2 linked regions of the Homo sapiens genome follow. The protein of the gene in region 2 interacts with the protein of the main gene of each other region in a biochemical or structural test. Each region holds a gene or a part of one and is shown on either strand. Other genes may lie near its edges.

Region 1 (2,760 bases), on a different chromosome or scaffold from region 2:
CAAGAACCCTGTAAAATAAAAAGGCACCATTACATTCCTTTATACCTACACATTCTTCTACATGATTCTACGAATATCAGCATTTAGCTGAAATAAAACATATGGCCCCAGGGAATACCTAATAATAAGACTTGTTGTTTACTGAGCACTTAGCCATGTGCAGGCTACTATTCTACCATTATTCTCTGAAACAGCTGGGAAGGGCTCACTCTTCCCTTTTCTCAGGTCACAGTTGACTGTGAAGCTGGCACTCAAGCCCAAGTCTGACCCCAAAGCCCTTGCTCTGAACCGTTACTCTATGATAAGCCCCTCTCTGCTCATAGTAAGCCCCACCATTTGTTAGAGATGGGTAGGAGACCAAAGTTCGCATGTTGTTGTTGTTGTTGTTTTGGTTTTGTTTTTTTTTTTGAGACAGGATCTCGCTGTCACCCAGGTTGGAGTGCATGGGACCATCTTGGCTTACTGCAGCCTTGAACTCCCAGGCTCAAGCAATCCTCCCACCTCAGCCTCCCAAGTAGCTGAAATCACAGGTGCACACCACCATGCCTTGCTAATTTTTCTATTTTTTTGTAGAGACAGGGTCTCAACCACGTTGCCCAGGCTGGCTTCAAACTCCTGGGCCCAAGCAATCCACCTGTCTTGGCCTCCCAAAGTGCTGGGACTACAGGCGTGAGACACCATGCCCAGCCCACATGTTTCTCTTAACAACTTCAAACAGCCCTTCAGTGCACAGTGATGGTGTTCACTTAAGGCCTCTCTCCTACCAGGGACTTTCTCTACTACTCCCTCCACCTCTCTTCAGACACAGGTGCTGTTAACCAGGAAAGCCAGAGACAGAAACTGACTTACCTGGCTGTGAAATAAAGTATGAACCAACCACTGAGTAAATGGACTTTATTCTCTTCATTAAGAACATTATTTTGAATTTGTTCAAATTAATGTCAGCAGCAATGGAATTTTTAATATAATCTAGCACATTCTATCCACAAGATTCACTTGGGCAGTTCAAACACTTAAGGAACATGAGACTGCTGCTACTTGTGTGTTTTCAGGTAGAATGAAATAAACCTTAAATGAAAATGTGGTACTATATGTGTTCTTTAGAAGTCCTGTGGCAGGATTAAAAACTTTACTACACTACAAGAGCCAGCCTGTGGGGGGTGAGATTTCAGATGCCCGTTGACAGACAGCTACTTCTAGGTGCTGGTGGGAGCACAGTTCCTGGTTAATCCTTCTGCTTACATTTTTATTGTGAAAAATGTAAAACATGTACAAAATTTCTATATAATGAGTACAATACAATGAGCTCCCATGAACTCTAAACCCAGCTTCACAATTATCAACTTATGGCAAATCTTGTTTCCTCCATAACCCCTCCAACTCTCCCTTCTCCCCAGTTATTTCGAATCAGATTATATCATTTAATCTGTACTTTAGTATTAAATGGTTTTTAAGTATACTAAAATGTATATAAGAAGATAACTATTAGAGCAGCACTGTACAAGAGAATTTTATGCAACAATGGAAATGTCCAATATAGCAGCCACTTAGCCGCATGTGACTGTGGAACACTTGACATGAGGCTGATGGAAGTGAAAAACCGCATTTTAAATTTTATTCAATTTTAAATAAATAGCCACATTTAATGAGCCAATTGGAGAGCACAGATCTAGAGCAAATTTGGTCAATAACCTTAATAGGAAAGTAGGTATTATGAATCCCTCCATGGGAAGGCAATAAAGACATGAACAATAATTGTTATATTGACCAGGATGAATTTGTAAAATCACTGCAGTAAACATTATCTGGCTGTCTCCTGGTTATATGCAATGTGAGCAACTATAGTGTAACTGAACACTTACTGTAACATGTAGGAATTCTGCACTTCTAGCCACATGCTCCACTGTTCTGATAAAAACCTTGTAGTGGCTTGTATAGTGAGAAATCAAGTGAATGGGAAATACTATTAAAAAATGATGGGACATACCTTAGTCCCTACCTCTTACTGGTTCTTTCAAATTACTACTACAGGCCAGGCACGATGGCTCACACCTGTAATCCCAGCACTTGGGGAGGCTGAGGCGGGCAGGTCACTTGAGGTCAGGAGTTCGAGACCAGCCTGGCCAACATGGTGAAACCCCGTCTCTACTAAAAATACAAAAAAAAAAAAAAAATTAGCTGGACGTGGTGGCAAGCGCCTGTAGTCCCAGGTACTAGGCTGAGGCAGGAGAATCCCTTGAACCTGGGAGGCGTAGGTTGCCGTGAGCTGAGATTGCACCACTGCACTCCAGCCTAGGTGACAAAGCAAGACTCCATCTCAAAAAACAAAACAAATTAATACTACAGTAATTACTACTATAATTAATATTAATACAATTTAAACTGTCCAACACAAGTGTGTGGCAGTTAAGGTGCATACCTTTTGAGAGACTTTTTCAATTTCAAATGTATTGCTCAATATCCAGACTATTAATGTTAAAGAGGAAACTGCAACAGTCCCAAGCCCCTTACTTTCCTGACATAGGTAACAATGTGCTAAATTGGCTGCTTTAATTCTTTGGCATCTTGCTTCAACAACTTAAAAAGAAAAGATTGAAAACCATAAAAGCAAACCAACTATTTTGACATAGGGGAACCATCTATCTAATGTCTCCTCAGAATTCTTCAGCGGGTTGTTTCCCAGAGATCCAGGACTAAGTCCAACTTCTAAGGCAAGACACCTGGCCCCTGCTCTTGGCCAGCCTCACTCTAGCCACCTTC
Region 2 (3,822 bases):
CACCACACCCGGCTTATTTTTTTATTTTTTGTAGAGACAAGGACTCTCCATGTTGCCCAGGCTGGTTTCGAACTCCTGGCCTCAAGCAGTCCTCCTGCTTTGGCCTCCCAAAGTGCTGGGATGACCGACATGAGCCACTGTGTCCAGCTGAAGCTAAGTCTTTAGACAGATCTCTATGCAGAGGGCTCTCCGCAAAGTTGAAAACCACACCTGCCCCATTCCTACCCAAGTTGGTGCTTCCCTGAAGACTCAGTCCTCTTGTACTCATGAGAGTTCATCTTTTTGTGGGGGAAGAGGGTGTGAGAGTCAAGTTTTTTGTTTTTGTTTTTGTTTTTTTTTACAGAGTTTTTGCTCTTGTCACCCAGGCTGGAGTGCAGTGGCACTATCTCGGCTCACCGCAACCTCCACCTCCCAGGTTCAAGCGGTTCTCCTGCCTCAGCCTCCCCAGCAGCTGGGACTACAGGCGTGCACTGCCACGGCCGGCTAATTTTTTGTATTTTTAGTAGAGACGGGGTTTCACTGTGTGAGCCAGCATGAGCCAACGCCCCCGATGAGAGTCAGGTTCTAACAGCCCCACTACTCAGTGAACACGCACGTTCTCACACTGGCCCGGATTAAAATCTAGCTCTGACAACACCACCGTCCCCCAGAACCTGGGGAAAGTTACCTCTTCACAAAGGGGGAAAAAACTCATAGGGCCCAGAATTGAGAGAGCATTGCACCTCTCAAAAAGTCAAGAGCTCACAGCAGGCCAGGCACGGTGGCTCACACCTGTCATCCCGGCACTTTGGGAGGCTGAGGTGGGAGGATCGCTTGGGCCCAGAAGTGTGAGAACAGCCTGGGCAACATAGTAAGACCTCACCTCTACAAAAAATACAAAAATTGGCCGGGCACGGTGACTCACGCCTATAATCCCAGCACTTTGGGAGGCCAAGGCAGCTGGATCACCTGAGGTCAGGAGTTCGAGACCAGCCTGGCCAACATGGTGAAACCCCATCTCTACTAAAAATACAAAAATTTGCTGGGCGTAGTGATGGGCGCCTATAATCCCAGCTACTTGGGAGGCTGAGGCAGGAGGATCACTTGAACCCAGGAGGCAGAGGTTGCAGTGGGCTGAGATCACGCCACTGCATTCCAGCCTGGGCAACAGAACGAGACTCCATCTGAAAAAAAAAAAAAAAAAAAAAAAAAGCTCCCAGCTGCTGCTCTGTTCAGTGACCTTGAAGAATTCACCCTGAGCTTATCCCTTCTATAAACAGAAAGACTGTTGGCCTCCTACGCTATCAGTGGGAGAGAAAGGGAAGCAAGGGCTTGGCCCTGAGACGGGGGCTCCTGGTTGACGTTTCCCATCTTCCTGTAAGCTCAGCAGTTTCCATCCCCCCTCAGCCAAGCCCACTATTGGCCTTTGCTGATAAGGTGTAGGCATGGCTGGGCATAGTGGCTCACAACTATAATCCCAGCACTTTGGGAAGCCAAGGCAGGCAGGAGGATTGCTTGAGCCCAGGAGTTTGTTTTTTGTTTTGTTTCTGAGATGGAGTCTCGCTCTGTTGTTCTGATCTCGTGATCCGCCCGCCTCGGCCTCCCAAAGTGCTGGGATTACAGGCGTGAGCCACCGTGCCTGGCTAGCCTGGGAGTTTGAGACCAGCCTGGGCAATATAGCAAGACCCCATTCCTACAAAAAATTAAAAAATTAGTCAGGTGTGGTGGTGCACACCTGTAGTCCCAGCTTCTCAGGAGGCTGAGAGCTGGGAGGATTGCCTAAGTCTAGGAGGTCAAGGCTGTAGTGAGCCAAGATCACGCCACTGCACTCTAGCTTGGGCTACAGAGCAAGACCTTGTCTCAAAAAAAAAAAAAAAATGCAAGTTGACAACCGCTCTGCTGTTTCCCAGCTAAGGCCATTTCTGCATAAATGGGAGGTGAGGAAGTCTAACCATGATGGGACAGCACAGCTCCCCGGCATACAGTAGGCACTCAATAGCAAGTGGATGAATAAGCTGCCTGTCCCTGCAGGTGGTCTCAGGGAAAGTCCAAGGATGCTGGGATGCGGCTGGCTTGTCCTGCCTCCAACCCAGGGATCACCTATTTCTGATGCTACAGACCCAGACACAAGCAGGTGGTACCCGAGGGTGGCCCTTCTGTAACCACTGGGCTGAAGCGGACATGGAGCACCTGAATACTTAATAAGCATCTATCTGCAGGGCGCGGTGGCTCACACCTGTAATCCCAGCACTTTGGGAGGCCGAGGCAGGCAGATCACCTGAGGTTGGGAGTTCGAGACCAGCCTGACCAACATGGAGAAACCCCATCTCTACTAAAAAGATAAAATTACCCAGGCATGGTGGTGCATGCCTGTAATCCCAGCTACTCGGGAGGCTGAGGCAGGAGAATCGCTTGAGCCCGAGAGGCGGAGGTTGCAGTGAGCCGAGATCGCACCATTGCACTCCAGCCTGGGCAACAAGAGCAACACTCTGTCTCAAAAAACTAAAAAAATAAGCATCTACCCTGTGCCAGGCTGCCTGCTGGGCACTGGACACAGCCACAAAGCAGGCAGCCTGTGCCCTGGTCCCAGCTGGGGAGACAAACAATAACCGATTAAGCCTCACACTTATCTGAAGGAGGGTGTTTTTTTTTTTTTTTTTGAGACAGAGCCTTGCTCTGTTGCCCAGGCTGGAGCGTGGTGGCACGATCTCGGCTCACTGCAACCTCTTGCCTCCCAGGTTCAAGTGATACTCGTGCCTCAGCCTCCCGAGTAGCTGAGATTATAGGAACTCACCATCACGCCTGGCTGATTTTTGAATTTTTAGTAGACACAGGGTTTCACCATGTTGGCCAGGCTGGTCTCGTACTCCTGATCTCAAGTGATCTGCACGCTTCGGCCTCCCAAAGTGCTGGGAGTAAGGCGTGAGCCACCACGCCTGGTCTGTGCCTCATTTTTTCATCCCAGGCTGTTATAGGTTGAATTATGGCCCCCTCAACCCCAAATTCTTATGTTGAAGTCCTGATCCCCAGGGGTAAGAATGTGGCTGTATTTAGAGACAGGGTCTTTAAAAAGCGGTGATTAAGGGAAACTGAGGTAGGGCACAGTGGCACACTCCTATAATTCTAGCACTTTGTGGGGCTGAGGCAGGAGGATTGCTTGAGCCCAAGAGTTGGAGACCGGCCTGGGCAATATGGCGAGACTCCGTCTTGACAAAAAGTACAAAAATTAGCCAGGCGTGGTGGATGCACCTAGTCCCAGCTACTCAGGAGGCTGAGGCAGGAGGATCTGTTGAGCCCAGGAGTCTGAGAACAGCCTGGGCAACATGGTGAAAACTCGTCTCTACAAAAAATTAAAAATAGCCAGGCATGGTGGTGCATGCCTGTGGTCCCAGCTACTTGGGAAGCTGAGATGGGAGGATCACTTGAGCCCAGGAGTTCAAGGCTGCAGTTGAGCCATGATCACACTACTGCACCCCACCCTGGGTGACAGAGTGAGAACCTGTCTCAAAAAAAAAATTTTTTTTTTTAATGTTAAGAGCCAACATTTGCTACAAGCCATGTGCTGTTCTGGGCCTTCAGGTGTTAACCCCAGGTCAGCATTGCCATTCTGTAGAAAAGAAAGTGGGACCCAGGCTGGGCCTGGTGGCTCATGTCTGTAATCCCAACACTTTGGGAGGCCAAGGCAGGTGGATCACCTGAGGTCGGGAGCTCGAGACCAGCCTGACCAACATGGTAAAACCCCATCTCTACTAAAAATACAAAAATTGGCCAGGTGTGGTGGCACATGTCTGTAATCCCAGCCACTCGGGAGGCTGAGGCGGGAGAATCGCTTGAACCTGGGAG

What was found.
Region 1: the proteins of PLIN3 (region 2) and RAB9A form a complex in vitro, tested with the Homo sapiens proteins (one study listed by BioGRID).

The regions. Positions count from the first base shown.
Region 1 is NC_000023.11:13,705,969-13,708,728, reverse strand, and holds part of RAB9A (ras-related protein Rab-9A), read right to left. Parts: intron 9-2,760; 5' UTR 1-8. UniProt on the Homo sapiens protein: The small GTPases Rab are key regulators of intracellular membrane trafficking, from the formation of transport vesicles to their fusion with membranes.
Region 2 is NC_000019.10:4,854,084-4,857,905, forward strand, and holds part of PLIN3 (perilipin-3), read right to left. Parts: intron 1-3,822. UniProt on the Homo sapiens protein: Structural component of lipid droplets, which is required for the formation and maintenance of lipid storage droplets. Required for the transport of mannose 6-phosphate receptors (MPR) from endosomes to the trans-Golgi network.